Linked DNA regions of Homo sapiens: region 2 is linked to region 1. Evidence: fine-mapped expression QTL. A gene starts in region 1. The other region holds a variant in brackets. All regions are shown on one strand. Distances are from middle to middle.

Region 1 (8,327 bases):
TTCTAACACAGCTACATATAAATGAATAATTGATAAGTAAGAGCAAAGAGCTTTGAAAACCTAGAGGTATCATATGGATAATAAAAAATAATGCAGACAGACAACCAGTGCCCAGGAGCTCAGGAGCTATTCAATAAAAAACAATCGGTGAAGTTGGACAAATACCTATGCAGGTTTTTAAAAAAATTCCTTCTAGAAAGGGGCTCTGAAAGGTACTCTCCTCAATTTGGACAAAAGGCAGTGTCTCATAACCAACAAAATCAGCTACACGGGAAGTCAGGAGAGCTGGGAAGTCTGGGGTGTGGGGCAGGTGCTGCAAATGTACTGCATGGCCCTTGGCTTCCAGGTCACTGCTTAAAGATCTGCTGGGGGCTCTGGGTGACTGAAGAAGGCACAGGCCCCATTGGGAGGCCCACTCAGTGCTCACCCAGGACCCCTCCGCACTGTCCAACCACGGGTATCTTTTGCACCAGCTTGAGTATGACGGACCGCCATCCCCCCAGAATTCCTCCATATCAAAGTCCAGCCCCAGGGCCAATATTTCACTGCCCAGACTCGGTGACATACTGACTGTGGCCGTCACACAGTTCAATGCAGACCTTTAACATATCGACCCTCCACTTTCACCATTTTTATAGGGGACTTTGAACCGCACTGTGAAAAATTATCTTTGCATGGACTTAAAAACAACTAATCACTTCCCTTCTTTCTTACCATCAAAAGCTTATAGAATCAAAATCAGGGTGACAGTTTCTGAGTCCGCGCATTTTTCTAATTAGTCATCCACTACCACCGGCTCTGAAGCTGTGCTGAGAAGACAGTCTTACCCTCCCCCAACTCCATCCTCTCTTCCCACTCCGACGAGGGAGGGTGAGGTTAAATCAAGGATCTGAGGATTCGGTCCCCTTCATCCCTAAACTACTTTTCACATCCTGGAAACCCAGACTGCTTTGCAGTCCTCAGTTCCTCCTCTCTCTCCAGGTACCTCTTAACTTTTTCTTTCAAACATGGAGAAGTTGCCCCTAGGCAATTTAGAAAGAAATTTATGGGGCTTATTTAACATGATTGAGGTCCAGGAACATTAGTAAAAATATATAAATTAGACTAAATGTTGACTTGGATTCTTCATGAGAAAAACCCAGAAGAAAACCTACCAGGAGAGTCAACAAAGAAGAAAGGTCGTACATCACGCCTTGGCCTGAAGACACAATCTTTCCCATTTGGATGGCCTTACTCTCCCTTCACTTCCAACAGCGCCAGTCTGTTCATTCTCAGACATAAAATACAGGGCCTAACCTTACAAAAATCAGCAACCTGCATACCCAGCATGATTTGCCTCTTTTCCAGCATTGCTTGCATATTCTCCAAGGAATGCAAGGAAAAGTAAAGCTATGGCTGGACCCTCCCAGGCAATCTCTGAAGGAATTTTCCCTGGGGCTTAGACAGGCAACAAACTCTAAGAAGCAGCCTTCCCTAATTTCAAGGGGAAAATCCAGAGACAGTCAAGCCAAAGGTTTACAGTTCTACACTTCTAGCTTTTTCTTTTCTTTGTTTTTGTTTTGTTTTTTGTTTGTTTGTTTTTGTTTTGTTTTTTGAGACAGAGTCTTGCTCTGTCACCCAGGCTGGAGTGCAGTGGCGCAGTCTTGGCTCACTACAACCTCCACCTCCTGAGTTCAAGCGATTCTCCTTCCTCAGCCTCCCGAGTAGCTGAGATTACAGGCACCTGCCACCACGCACAGCTAATTTTTGTATTTTTAGTAGAGATGGGGTTTCACCATGTTGGCTAGGCTGGTCTCGAACTCCTGACCTCAGGTGATCTGCCCGTCTCCACCTCCCAAAGTGTTGGGATTACAGGCGTGAGCCATCGTGCCCAGCCTCACTTCTGGCTTTTGGTCTGACCACAGCCTACTGTGAAATTGCAGCATCCCCTGTAACTGGAGGAAGCAACTGGATCCTCCATCTCCTGATGTCTAGTTCACAGTTTGATTCCTGCTTGCCAGCAATGAGCTTGAGCCAGATGTTCTCATCAGGCACATGGGCTGAATGAAGCCTGCTTCTCATCAGACCAAAGCCCGAGCCAGCCCCTGGTTAGCCGACCCTGCTTCCAAGTAGTAAAAAAAGGAACCCACAGAGACACCATGCACATCCCTCAGCTATCTCTGCAAGGGGCTGTGACCCTCTGCAGAGACGCCGACTATCAGTGCACTGGTGTGGTGCAGGCCAGCAGGTTGCCAGTGAAGCCTGCCAGGCTCAGCACAGGCAGCAGAGCCCTGGATCTCAGGGCCAGCCTGTGTGGCCACTACCATGCTTCTCTCCGTGGCTCTCTTTGGAACTTAAGAGACAAGGCCAGGAAATTGGGGTAGTTCAGTAGGATACTTTTCTTTCCAGTTGTTGATGACAAAAGGGAGATGATGCCTTCTGACCAACTTTCTTAATTAGGCACTCACCAGGCTATGTCACTAAGCAGAATGGGACATAAAACTTGCCCTACCGTACGGGTATTTGGTGTCCAGCTTATTCTCTGCTGTCCTTCTCCAAGGCAACACGTCATCACTGCACCCATTTGGCATCCCATTGTACCCAATCCCGACAATCTTGTTTTCTGAATTCACGATGCAGGCGCCGACCTAGAAGGAAACATGCCCAAAGGCTTGGTGCCTGCAACTGGCTGGTCTGCCGCTGTGGAAGCAGGGAATAAAACCAGGGGGACTGCAGAACTCAAAACAGACGCATAGCTGCTGCAGGTGCTGAGAGCTGTCGGTCTCCTTGCCTGGTTTTTTGTGGCAGCACCCACAAGCCAAGGAAAGTGCACCCCCAGTCCCAGAAGGGGCACAAGAGGCAGTTAACAATGGCATGTGACAATTTTCTGTCTCACAGGAAGAACTAAGCTTGTAGAAACGCAGCACAAAAGGCAGACCGACCCTGCACTTTTAAGTTGACAGGCGTCCACTGAGTCTCCCCTTTCTGCTCATGTGCAGTAATCTCTTTGCCTGTGAGTATCTAAGCATTCTCCCGTGAAATTCATTTACCTGGGAATTTGGATCTTTGCTTCTCTGTGCTGATAAGAAGGCCACAGCCATAAAATACTCTGGCCATTCCAAATAGTCGTCCCGTTTCTTGCAGGAAACTTCACTCATGTTGGGTCTAGAAGAAAAACATGACAAAACAGAAGTTGAGAGAAGCATTTTAGTAAGTCTGTTTTCCAGTTCAACCCAACCACACTGAACCTTTAAATCTCTAAACATGGGCAACTTCAGCTACATTTATCAATCAGAAATCACAGCACATGGGCCCTAAACAGTCTCTGGTCTTAAGTAAAAACTTAAGAAATTTCCTATTTCAGAAGTTTGAATTTGAAACCTATAGCTTCACGTTCCCAAATATTTCATCTATTTACTGCTTTCTCATAGGATTTTTTATGCCAGCCTACAAATTGTTGTGTCCTTTACCTGTCTCCCTTACAAAGCGGAGTCAGCACAGGAGGAGGGTGGAAAAAAGAAATATTTATTGATCATCTATAGATTCCAGACATTGTTAAAGTTTATACACATCATGTCACTCAAGCCTTACTCCTAGCTAAGGTAGACAGTGCCATCCCATCTTACACAGACTCAGAGAACTTAGGTAACTTAACCTAAACCACACAGGATTATCATCCATGCCAGACGGATTCAAAGAAAACATCTGAAGCCTTCCCAACTCTGATATTAACCAGATAATTTTTCCCTTCCCTTTCTCCTCAATAATCCAGATGGGACAGAAGTTATCAACTCCGAGTAATGAATTACATGAGAAGAAACTATGAAAAACGTCAAGTGCTACTCCTAAAGCAAGGTTTTTGGAACGTAGTTTACCAGGGGCAAGCAGAGACTGTCTACGGCAGGGAGAGCCCACGAAGGGGGTCCTAGGACTTCAGGGGAGTGGTCGCTTTCAAAAGGAATGAAACAAGGGCAAGGAAGGAAGACAACACAAAAACGGGGTGGGTACCACGGAGAAATCTTGAGAAAGGCGAGGAATGTGGTCTAAAGGAAGGCAAGCATCTCCCAAAACTTCTGCTTCAGGCTCCACACTTTATTTAGGCATCTGCTACAGTGCAGGGCGGCAGTGCCTAAGACAAGGATGCAGTGGAGAGTGGGTGCTGGGAACCACGGTCACCCACTGATTACGCTGCCCCACATCTGAGAGGCCTGGCAACCCCCCTAACAGGAAAAGACAGGTGCTGAATCAGCCTGGTTTCCCACCTGGCTTTAGGGCCAGCATCCATCATCGCTGTGGGGTGCTGGAGAAGTACCTACTAAATAGGAGGGAGGGGGAGCCATGGGGGGCGAGGGAAGAGCAGGAGAGGGAAGGGTCCTGTTAATCCCCTGGGCGCCTTCTCCTGGTGTGGCTGAACGCCCACTAGAGCCCTGTGAGGACTGAGGCCCAGCTGTAGAAACAGAGAGAACTGGAGCTCGAATACAACGATTCAGGAAGACACATCCGGTCACCGTCCCAGGCACACCCCACGCCGCTCGCAACCCCGTCAGCTCTGATCCAGGGCCTACACCCGGCATTCCCAACCCACACACGGGCGCAGGAAGGGATGTGGTGTTCAGACGCCCAGCACCACCTCCCGGGGCACTCCAAGGGGCCCGGCCTCGCACAGGCCGCGGCGCCCGCCGAGAAATCGACCCTGGAGTGACTGCGGGGACCCCGAGCGCCCCCACCCCGCCCGCATTCTCCGATCTAAAGGCTGAGCGCGGCCGAGGCGCCCCCAGCGTCCGCGGCCCCAGGCCCCCGCCCGGCAGCCAGCGCCCCGCGCCACGCGCTCGGGACGGTGCCACGCGGCGGTGGCTAGGGGCGCGCGGGCCGCGTACCCGCACGGCTGGCCCCCGCCCACCATCCGGTGCCGGCTCCGCGCGCAGGCCGGTGCTCGTCCCCGCCGCCGCCGTGCTCAGGGAAGGAAGTCGGGGGAGGAGGCGGGGCCGCCGCGGGGCCGGAAGGGGGCAGCGGCCCGGGCGCCGCGCGTTCGCAGGACGGCGGCTGGCCCCGGGGGCCCGAAGCCCTGAGGGGAGGGAGGGAGGGACGGCGGGGGCGGGTCGCACGCCGCAAAGGCGCTGCTCCGCGTCGCCGTACGCCTCCCGGTCCCCGTGACGCAGCCCGCGGTCCGGCCGGCGGTGTTCAGAGCCCGAGCACAAACTACTTCCCGGGTGCCAGACCGCCCCGAGGTCGCCCCGCTGCCCGGGTCACGCGTGGCGCTGGGTGGCCGCGAGTTGGGCGCTCCCGGGCCTGACTGCACGACCGTCGGGGGCTGCTTGGTTTGGTGGTGGTGGCGGTGGTGAGGTTTTCCCCACCATCCGTGTTCCATCAACTGCTTAGAGACACGGCTATGGAGATTGTGATTAAAAGACGACCCCAAGAATCTAGTGCCGTGAAACTGGCGGGGCGGGAGGTGGGGAGACCTGGTTTGGGTCTCTGGAGTGAGCCCGCTGTGTCGCAGCGTCCCCGTGGGGACCCTTGGCCGGTGGCTGGGTCACAGTTTCACACACTGGATGGGGCAGGGAACTGGGTCCGGCGGGGGCGCTGTGCCTCGAGGCTCAGTGCCTCGAAGCTAGATTTGCATTTGGCTGCGCCTGACAGGCTTTCAGTTTCTGCTCAAATTGTGCGGAAGGGCCTGAGGTGTTTGCTAAAGCCTGCCGCGCCCTGCTCGACCCGTATCACCGCACAGGCACCCCACCTGCATGTTACCTCCTGGTAATGCTCGCCCACTTATATAGTGCACATTTTGTTGCAGTTGTTTCAAAGATGAGAAAAACAGGGCAATAGGAAAGACCATCAGTGACATTTCTGGAGTCGTATGCCCCAAGCAACTTAATCTGGTTTTCATGAACTTCGTTACCCTGTGCAGACGTCTAGCCCCTTACAGTGGTTCTAGCACAGAGAATGACAGAAGAACCCCTTTCTGTTTCATTCATGGGACTTGAGGGGACTGTCAGCACTCCATAAATAACAGCTACTGTAATAATCGCCAGTTCTGATCTGCACATCCCAGATTTGAACTGCTATTCCAAACAAAAGCTTGTTAACTATATTAATTTAGCCTAACGGAGGAAGAATGATGAGAGTAAACAGTTGGTTCTATCTAATTTCTCACTACAGCAGACACATCATTCTTCATCTCATGGTCCAGCTTGTAGATTCAATAATTAAATTATGTACTGCTCTTGGTGGATGCCGGGAAAGCAAAAGGGAGAAATACTTCATCGTTAACTATAGATTTTTTTTTTTTTTTTTTTGCCTTGATAAGACTCAGGCTTGAAAGAGCCACATAGATTAAGATGATGATTTTTAATTTCAAGTTGACTTTACATGGCTGTCTTGTTGCCGCTAAAATGTGTCATATATCCCGAGCCCCTGGTTTCCCTCCTCCTCCCAAATCCACCGCTTGGTCTTTGTCACACTCATCTACAGTCTTTGGGTCTTCATAGATCCATTTCTCTTCTTACCAACCTACAACCCATACATCACCAATTGCTGCTGCTCCTTCAACCACAACATCATTAAGCTTTCTTCCTTCCTCTGCTCGGTAAAGACTGTCATACATAATTTAGTTACTTCTCATCACTCTCCATTTTGGTCAACTCACACACTCCCCTCTGCCATAAATTCAAGCTCCTGCTTGCTGAAAACACATTACCCTGAATGTTCCCGCATTTCACTGAAAGTCCCTCATCTTAAAGATGACATCATTCATAATACAGGAAACCCTCCTGGTTCAGAGTTTCACAACTTGAGGTTTCAAATATTGTACACCAATAGTGAAGCCACGCGGCCAAAGGGGGGAGAAATATATTCCTTGGTATGTCTTTCTCATTAACACCTTGTAACTCCAAGTGTGACTGTAGGTGTTAAATCTCTCTTGCTAATACCTTGTATTTGGGCTTATAATTGAGGATCTTTCTCCACCTACTACAGATACAGAGGTTAGGTATGTGTTCAGCCCTATCTAGATTGGCCTTCCTTGAGGGCCTCACACAGGTTGAACCCAATCAGCACATTCCTAAGGACTACTGTCTTGGCCCTTTTGTTTATGGGGTTTCGTGCTATCTATGTCTAGTCTAGAGCATAACCTGGAATATATTAATATTTCAGTGTGCCTTAGGTAGGGGATCCCGATTAAAAACAGAAGTCAAGGTAAGACTCTTCCAGGGCTGCCTCAGAAGAGGGGTTGATGGCATTTGCAAATGTCTGCCGTACCGAGATACTACCTGCCCCTCCTTCCACCTCCTCTGCCTGCCAAGGTAAGGATGAGACCTGTGACTGGGGAAACAGAGGCAAGGAGTCAGGAAGGTGGCCAATCTGTCCATCAAGTTTGTCATGAGAGAAAGAGCACCGGCCTTGGAGTCAGACCAGACTTTGAACCCTACTCCCACTTCTTACAACCCGAGTAACCTTGAGAAGCTACTTCCATTCTTGGAGTCTCTGTAAAATCAACAATATTCATTTTTTATTAATTCCCTGCTATGTGCTAAGTGCTGTAAATACCATGATGGATACTATAAGCCAGTTCTTGCCCTCACATTCCCCTCTCCGCAAATAAACACAGAAAAAAATGAACCTTATTGCTGGCCCAGTGAACATAGTAAATGTTGTTATAAACTGCCTGTTGTTCTTAATTTGGTGGTTGTCAGTCAGGACCAAAAACTCCTTTGCATAACAACTGCACTTAGAGGCAAAGTGCCACTTTGACTGGTTTTCAAAGGAATAATTGTTTATGTTTCCATGCTAAAGTGCAAACTAGAGAAAACTCTTTTTAAATCTTAAGTAAGGGATGACTGTAAGTCTGCTAAACCACAAAAAAGTCACAATGAAAATTCTAGAAAAAAATAAATATGTGGTCTTATCAATACAGTACAGGTTGAGCATCCCTAACCTGAAAATTCAAAATCCAAAATGCTCTAAGATCTGAAACTTTTTGAGTGCTGACACTCCCACAAGTGGGAAATTCACACCTGACCTCATGTGATAGGTGCACAAAATTATGAAAAATATCCTGTCAAACTACTTCCAGGCTATGTATGTAAGGTGTATATTAAACATAAATATATATTGTGTTTAGATTTGGGTCCCATCCCCAGGACACCTCATTACATATATGCACATATTCCCAAATCTGAAAAAATCCAAAACCTGAAACACTTCTGGTCCTAAGCATTTTGGAGAAGGGATATTCAACCTGTATATACATTTTCGTATGTATGTTAGAGCATGAGGTCAGTTGTTTGTGTTCCATGAAGGGCATACAGACTGCAAATTGACATGACAGAGCACTCCTATCAGAAAAAAAA
Region 2 (8,327 bases), 39 kb before region 1:
GTATCTTCCACAGGGCCTAGGACATATTTGCTTAGCTCAGCAAATATGTATTGAGCGCCTGCTGTGTACCAGGAACTGCGCTAGAAGCCAAGGATACATGAAGAAACAAAACAGAAGCGGCCGGACTCTGAGGCCAGTAAGTCTCATGGGGCAAAAAGGGGCCTGTATCTCGGCCGTGTGGCGACGTTATTTGCCTCAAAAAACGCCTAGGCCGGAACCCCTGCATTTCAGGCTCCTGTGGAATTTTGAGAGAAGACAGTACTTTCTTAAGCTGTTCCGTATTTTCCATGCAGGCTTCCATTGACAGAAATCCCACTTTGCATCTGTGAAATTTGCTAACGCACGATTCTGCTCTAGTGCATCGTGAGGCAGTTTATGACATCCGTGCAGCTCTGGTAAAGAGCATGCTTACAACGAGGGGGAAAAGCACCGCCGCAGGAGCAGAGCAGTGGACTCTCAGGGAATTTCCATTTTCTCCTGTCTTAGCGCTGTTAACCATCACGCTTGGCGTTGCCTGACTTCGACATGCGATCACGGCTGCTAGTTCTGAGAGAATGTGAGTTTCCTGGTGAAACTCTCTCTCAACTCTAAGATGGACCTTGACGGAATGCCAAATGTCTCTGGCCTTCCAACATGATAAAGGGCCTCCACGATGCTTTCTGCTTTTCTCCCTCTGCAAAGGTGGCAGTGAGGAGCTTTCTCTGGTGGCTGTTGCATGGACCCTGTCCCCTTGGATGGCTGTGCCTGCAGATTGTCAGGCCGTTGTCTCTGCTTCCCCAGCCCGCAGAAAGGTCACCGACAGGGCTGTGGCACATGCAACTTGGCCCTCACCGTGGAGGAGATGGGGCAGCTTCTGTACAGGTTCTGATCAGGTGGCCACGGCAATGACTGGGGATGCCAGGGACACACTGGACTGTCCCGAGCACGGCGACTTCCCTGGTTTTGCTACCTCTCTTCCACCTGCACTGCACTCCGGGGCTCTGATTTTCACCTTGCTCGCTGACCCCCGCCTCCTGTTTCATGGGTCTTCTTTTCCTGCCATCAGCATCTTTTCTCTGAGACGCCGCTTGGATTTTCTTTCCTGCCTGTTTGTCCTAGACACCGGCAGGAGTTCAAGAATGATGTGACACAGTGATGTGGCCATGGGGTCTGTGCAGACTGACCTGGCCTGTTTCAAAATTTAAATTTTGTTTTAAGTCATAAAAGGGCTACAAAAGCCTTACACTAAATAAGAAAAACTATCCCATCCGGGGGCCTAATCCCTGCCCCGTTCTGCTCGGCTTGCCTCCCTCATTATACTTGTATAATACAGTATGGTTTCTATCGCGTATTTCCTTCCTGTTTTTACACTTATTCTTGCTTCACTGACTTTATTATCGGCAGAATTTTGCAGCATTTTTTTTACACAGCCATAAATACTCTTCAATTCAACAAATGCATACAAATGGTTTCCATTAGAATTTTAATCTACTCTCAAAATGAAAGAAAAGCTTAATATAAATCTTTTTAAATTACCAGAACATAAATTCACACAGGGACAGTTCCTCCTAGGCCACGCACAAGGGGTCGCATCCTGCCGTCCTCCCTCAGAAATTAATTGAGCTCTCTTGCCGCCGTAAACGAACAGTGCATCTGGAAAGATCGTATCTGTCAAGATTGCAGATTGGTTTCCCTCAGACTTTGTAAAAGTCACAGCTTACAATACGTTCATTATACCGATGAGAATGGCTGTCCTCCCAACTGGAAAGAAATAGGTGTTTTGTTCTGTTGGACCAAGATTTACAGAAAGCAATTTTCCTCCATGCAGGAGATATGACAAACCTGCTGGAAAAAAATGTCATTTCACAACTTCTTTCATTTCATCACCTTTTTTTACTGCTAGATGTAGATTCTCTCCCCTGTGCGAACGGGCTGTAGTGACATTTAATGGCTAAGTGAGGGAGTCACCAATGAGTGGAGGCACCTTTCTGAGGGGCTAAGGTAAGAGGGTTTCCATGCCTCTCCCTCTCCCCCTATGTCCGGGGCTGTCTGGAAGCGTCCCAGCATCTGCCGGAGTGAGGGAGGGACGCGGTGAGTCCCTTGAGCCCCTCAGCCAACTTGAACTTAGGAACTCATGTGAATCTTGTGTCTCTCTCTTGTAAGCAGCTGAAGTTGCCTCAGTTTTCCTGTTGTTTGCTGAGCCCAAGAACCCCAGCGTGCCCACTCTGTCCTTGGCTGACAGCAGCACGCTGTCTCAGGAGGACGGCTGAAGGGCAGAGTTTGGGCTTAGATGTTTTTTTTCCATTTCCTCATGTCATAACCTAATGCTGTTCTAGCAGAGCTTCTGCATATTAAATTGCCTTTTAGCCACTGGGAAGGGGGTGGCGTGATCTATGGAGAAAAGGACCCTCATGTAAATGTATGATGGTGACACAACCCCACAGAGGAGAAAGGGCAAGACTAACCCGGAGACCAGGGGTCAGCAAACCCCGGGAAACGTCACTCTTTACAGCCACTTCTCTCTCCTTGAGTCAAGAGCCACTGTTCCGAGCTTTCCGTCACAGCAGCTCATGGCAGCCCTATCACCGCCTGTTCTCTGGGCTGGGGCTGGTGAGAAGGCCGAGGAAGTCTGAGGCAGGGTGTGTGGGAGGGCTTTTGGTTCCAAGAGCTTCTCTGAGCTCTGTGTACCAGCGAGAAAGCAGGCAGCGAAGGCAAGATCAAACCTTGCTCCTGCCAAGCGGGAGAGGCTGGCTTCGGGTGGTAATTTGTGCTGCAGGTGAGGCTCCCTACCTGGGCGGCCACTTAGCTGCACCAGGCAGGGAGGGCAGGGCCACCAGAAGGCCTGGTGGGCATTGTTTCCATGGGCTGGAAAGATTTTTGCAAATCTTTCTGCAAATGATGATCTCTATCCACATAAAGTGGCATAATAGCCTCTTTGCTTTACCGAGTGCTGCTGGCTGTTCAAGTGCTTATTTCTTGATTCTTGGCCCATTTGCTTTCCATTAGCAGTAATCCCAAGCCTGCAAAACTCCAATTACTAAGTGATAATAGAAATGCAGCTCTGCCTCGGAGTCTCTGGAGCTCAGGGTCCAGAGTGGGCCAGGGTTCCACGCACAGCCACATTGCAATCATATTTATGACATGTGAGCAAGACATCTGGCCGGTCCCTGGGTTAAAGACCCAGGGGAGCCGAGTGGGCATTCTCAGGGGGTGTCTGCACCGCAGATCCCAGGGAGCTGGTGGAAACAGGACAGGTGTTCCCAAGACAGTCCAGGATGCTCAGACAGCGTAGGAGGAATGGAGGCTACAATGGACGGAGCTGAAGGAATGTGTGCTGCTCCTTTGAATTCTGGGGTTGGAGGAAAGGTGTGCTAGGGACTGAGCTGTGTCCCTCTCCCAAATTCATATGTCAAAACTTTAACCCTCCATGTGAGGGTTTTTGGAGGTAGGGCCTTTATAGGTAATTAGGTTTGGATGCAGTCATGAGGGTATCGCCCTTACGATGGGATTAGTAGCTTTCTAAGAGACCAGAGCCGTTGCTCCCGGCCCCACTCCCTGCCAGGTGAGCCCACAGTGAGAAGGCGGCCGTCCACAAGCCAGGAAGAGAGCCCTCACCAGAACCCGGCCATGCCAGCACCTGATCTCAGACTTCCCAGCCTCCAGAACAGTGAGAAGTAAAGGCTTATTGTTTAAGCCGCCCAGTCCCTTGTATTTAGTTATGGGCAGCTGAGCAGACTGCAACAGGATGACAGGAGAGAGAATGATTGTAGATTCAGAGTGAGGTGGGGCTCAAAGTCAGAACTTCAGAACTGAGCCCAAAATGATCAGAAAATTCACCCCCTAGGTGGCTGCTGGTGAAAATTCACTACTCTAGGGGCCAGGGCAGCTGTTTTGTATGTGTGTGTGTGTGGTAAGAAAACAAAAAAACAAAACAAAACAAAAACAACCACACACATAATAAGGCCAGGCACGGTGGCTCACGTCTGCAATCCCAGCACTTTGAGAGGCCGAGGCGGGTGGATCACTTGAGGTCAGGATTTCCAGACCAGCCTGGCCAACATGATGAAACCCTGTCTCTACTAAAAATACAATTAGCCGGACATGTGGCGTGAGGCTGTAGTCCCAGCTACTCAGGAGGCTGAGGCAGGAGAATGGCTTGAACCTAGGAGGTGGAGGCTGCAGTGAGCTGAGATCGTGCCATTGCACTCCAGCCTGGGCGACAGAGAGAGATTCCATCTCAAAAAAACAAAACAAAACAAAACAAAAAAAACACATAACATAAAATTTACCATCTTAACCATTTCTAAGTGTACAGTTAAGCAGTGTTAACTATATGCACACTGCTTTGCAATCAACCTCCGGAACTTTTCATCTCACAAAACTGAAAGTCTGTATCTGTTAAACAACTCCCATTTTCCCCTCTCCCAGGCCCCGCACCCACCATCCTACTTTCTGTCTCTATGTATTTGACACTCACATCATCTCGCGCAGGTGGGATCATCTG[GTAT/G]TTGTCCTTTTGTGACTGTCTCCTTTCACTTAGCTCACTGTCCAAAGTTCGTCCATGCAGTAGCATGTGTTGGATGGACTTTCCTTCCTTTTCAAGGCTGAGTAAGATTCCACTGTGTGTTTACATTTTCTTTATCCATTCATCCACCGAGGAACACCTGGGCGACGTCCCCCTCCTGGCTGCTGTGAATAATGCTGCTCTGAGCATGAGTGTGGAGCGTCTGTTTACAAAGGAGATGGTCAGACAGTACAACAGCACTCAGGTCAGTCCAGCTGCCCCCTCATCCCACCAGCTCCTTCCCAAAAGATTGACCACTGGACTTTTTCTCATAGGAAGCACTGCCCTCCGCACCAAGCTCCCTTCACATCCTGATCAGCGCTGCTCTCGGCTGCTGCTTCTTGCTTCAAGCCCCCAGGAATATCTCCCTTTTTTTTAATTCCATTTCTCTCTCAACCTTAAAACTATCCACCACCCTTAGTCTGTTCCATTATCAAGCCCTTCTGCTGACTTTCACCAAGCACTGTCATTTCTTCTTCCACATTTTCTTTCAAATTCTCCAAGATCCTCTTTTAAATATACTAGCAAGGCAGACTCGCCTGACTTTTCCCTAGTTCACACCTAGGGACAAACAGATCCAAAAAAGTCAATAGAATTTGTAGGGGATCCTGATAAGGACTTGGCTGATTTTTGTTGCCTGGTTTAGACCGCTGCAGTTTTGTGCCCCTCAGAAATCTCATAATTTATGACTGCTGCCAGCGGGCAAAAATGTGGAGCGTTTGTCCTCAAACAGAGTCTGTTGTAAAAGTGTTCTTTCTAACGGTAAAGAGCAGCAAAGAAAACAGGCTGCTGTGTTCTTCCTCTCTGATGCCTCTGACCTCGTTGAGTAGCTTCTCACTCAAATTGTTCATTGTGGCACCAGCCACATTCTTTTTGAGATTTTAAAAAATTAACAGACTCCTTTTTTAGAGCAGTTTTAGTTTTATGGAAAAATTGACTGGAAAGTATACAGAGTTCCTATATTAATGCCTTGGTCTCCTCCCCACCATCGTTTCTCCTATTATTGACACCTTGATTCTGACTCTGGGGCTGCCCTCTCTCAGGAACTGCAGCTGACCTGGGTGCCCAGTGCCTGTCCCACGCTAGAGAGGATCCGAGTCCAGCGTCTAGCTCTGCACAGTCTTTCTCCACTGCAGTGGGCCTGACTGTGATCAGCCCTGCTCTGAGACAGGAAGGCCCGAGGGCTGTTGCGTGGCCCATCTGCAGGGGCATCGGTGGTGTGACAGGTGTCCCACCATGTCACGTGGGGTGGATGTCCACTGCCTGAACCCTGAAGGCCAGGCAAGGAGCCAAGGCCAGGGGGGCCCAGCGAGGAGCGTGTGTCCCTGGGAGTATCTGGGAACCTACCCAGGAAGGCAGTCCCATCACACACAGCAGGCCAGGAACCAGAGACTTTGCTTAGTGATGGCAGCAGTGCGAACCTCTAGAGCTGTCCTGCCGCCACCCAGGAGGGCCCTCAATAGAGTCATCTACTGGCCAAGCTGGACTTGTCCGAGCCAATCTTCGGTTTCTCAGCACCTTCCCAGTTTGGGGTGTGAGGTTGCAGAGTGGGGACAAAGTCCCAAGTCTTTCTTATAATAGCATCCTGCACAGAGATTACTGTAGGATGGTGCTCCCAGCGGGGAACAGCATGGCCCCTGCCACACAGATGCCAAGCAGTCCCTGGGGGTGGAATGACAGACGCCCTCTCTAGGAAGACACTGTATTACACACAAGGAGTGGAGTCAGTTTATACCATGCCCTGGTCTGCCCTGGAGATGGAAAAGGGAGTCTGACTGGACAATGGAGAGCTTTTTGGATCAAGACTTCCATAGATCCAGTGTATCCCTTTACTCAGTCAGTCACTTAATATCTACTTATCTGAAAACACTCAGGAGCCCAAGGCAGGCAGATCACGAGGTCAGGAGTTCGAGACCAGCCTGGCCAACATGGTGAAACCCCGTCTCTACTAAAAATACAAAAATTAGCTGGGTGTAGTGGCACGCACCTGTAGTCCCAGCTACTTGGGAGGCTGAGGCAGGAGAATTGCTTGAACCCGGGGGGCGGAGGTTGCAGTGAGCTGAGATCGCACCACTGCACTCCAGCCTGGGTGACAGAGTGAGACTCCATCTCAGAAAACAAACAAACTAACAAAAAAACCCAAAACCCCTGGGCCAGGCACTGTTCTAGGCACTAGAGAGTCAAGAGGAATAAAGCAGGCTTGGCCCTGCTGTTTTGGGGGGACACAAACAGAAAACAGTAAGACAAATAGACAAAAGAGTTATGTAAAGAAAGAAACTGGGTGACCTGATGGTTACTGGGAGGTGGGGGTCTTGGGGGTGCTGGTAGACAGGGTGGGCCAGGGTGGGCCCCTCTGAGGAGCGGACTCTGAGTGGAAGTGCTGGAAATAGGAAGGAGGAAACTGTGGGAAGAGCTGGCGGAGAGAATTCTCACCTGGGAAGAAGAAATAGCAAGTGCAGCTGCCGATCTGGAAAGGAACGCTCGAGAAGGAAAACAGGCCGGCAAGGCTAGGGCATCAGGAATCGGAAGGCAGGAGCAGAGAGGCTGGAAAGCCAGCTGTGGTGGAGGGCCACAGACTACGGCTCCCATTTGCCTGCCTTAGCACCCAGCTTCATGAGCTGTCCCAAGACCCCATGTCACTTGGCCCAGTGTCTTGGTATGGGCACCAGCCTCCAAGCTGGGGAACCTGAGTTCTCAGCCCCGTTCTACCTCTAGAGCTGTGCAAGCCTGCCTAAGTCCTAACTGCATGTCCTTATCTACAAAGCAATGCTGGAGATACGATTCTAAACTCTAATATTCTCCAGCAACGACTGTGCCATGCCGGCCACACAGATGACTCACAAAGAACTCCAGCACTCCCAATGCCAAGGTGCCGGGCTTGCATTGACAGAGTCCAGGATCTTCGCCTGCAAACCCTGCTGCTGCTCCTCCGAGAGTGGAAACCTGCCAACCCGCAGCCGAGGGACAGTAACAACTCACTTGGCCAGTGAGCAATGTCACAGCTGTGTCCAAGAGAGGAGAGGCAGGAGGAAAGAGGTAACAGGCAGGAAGCCCACTCCCAGACAATGAGCGTCTTCAGAGTCCTGACGTAGCAGAAGTCTAAATTGAAACATCCCGGTGCAGCGGGGTGATTGCACTAAAGCAAGTTGGCAAAACATCAGACAGCAGGTACCATGGCTGCCTGTGACGGGAGGCTCCGGCTGACTTCCTAATTGGGCCAAAGCACCTCGAGTGCCCTGAAGTTCACTTGCACTGCCATCAGCGGCTAAAACAAAGAATCCTTTCATCAATTAAAATGTGTTTCCAAGGCAGCGTTTTGCTCTTCCCTGGAGGAGCTGCTGGCCTTGCTCTTGTGATCTGTGCTGGCTTTGAGACCCGCAGCTGGGGCTGCAAACCCAGCAAGCCTGGAGCCCCCGCCCAGGCCTCAGCATGTGCTGCTTGGACTTAGCCCTGCTATGGATTTAGTGACTGTTCACTTTGCTCCTCCCTACTCACGACCCAACAGACAATGTTTAGCCAAAGGTGCTTTGGGGCAGGAGGGGCACACTCCACCTTGGTCTCTTCTGTGCGTGCTCACCGTGACTCAGAGATGCTCGGCCATGACGCTTCTCATCAATCTGCTGCTGCTGTTTGGTAAAGAGCCCCACTTTTTCGTGGGTGGGGGGGGGAGGCATGTGTGGCCACGCTGCTCCTCACCTCTTTTTCCTGTGATTCTCGTAAGAACCTTTCAGAACCCTCTCCTCCCTGCTCCCACCCCTTTAAAGACAGTAGTAGCTGCTTAATC

What was found. PIP is the estimated chance that this variant, and not a neighbour inherited with it, causes the effect.
Region 2: its variant is fine-mapped to the expression of DCTD in whole blood (TOPMed, PIP above 0.99).

What each region holds. Positions count from the first base shown.
Region 1 is chr4:182,912,432-182,920,758 of GRCh38, forward strand. DCTD (dCMP deaminase) reads right to left here and starts at 4,955. Exons shown (of 6, transcript NM_001921.3): 1 at 4,880-4,955; 2 at 3,030-3,144; 3 at 2,492-2,627. The coding sequence starts at 3,137. RefSeq lists a silencer at 4,587-5,296 and an enhancer at 6,870-6,919.
Region 2 is chr4:182,873,055-182,881,381 of GRCh38, forward strand. It overlaps LOC105377576 (a long non-coding RNA gene), which reads right to left and starts at 6,483. Exons shown (of 3, transcript XR_007058403.1): 1 at 5,601-6,483; 2 at 4,457-4,706; 3 at 1-1,824. The variant GTAT/G (reference allele first, on the strand shown) is at 4,484.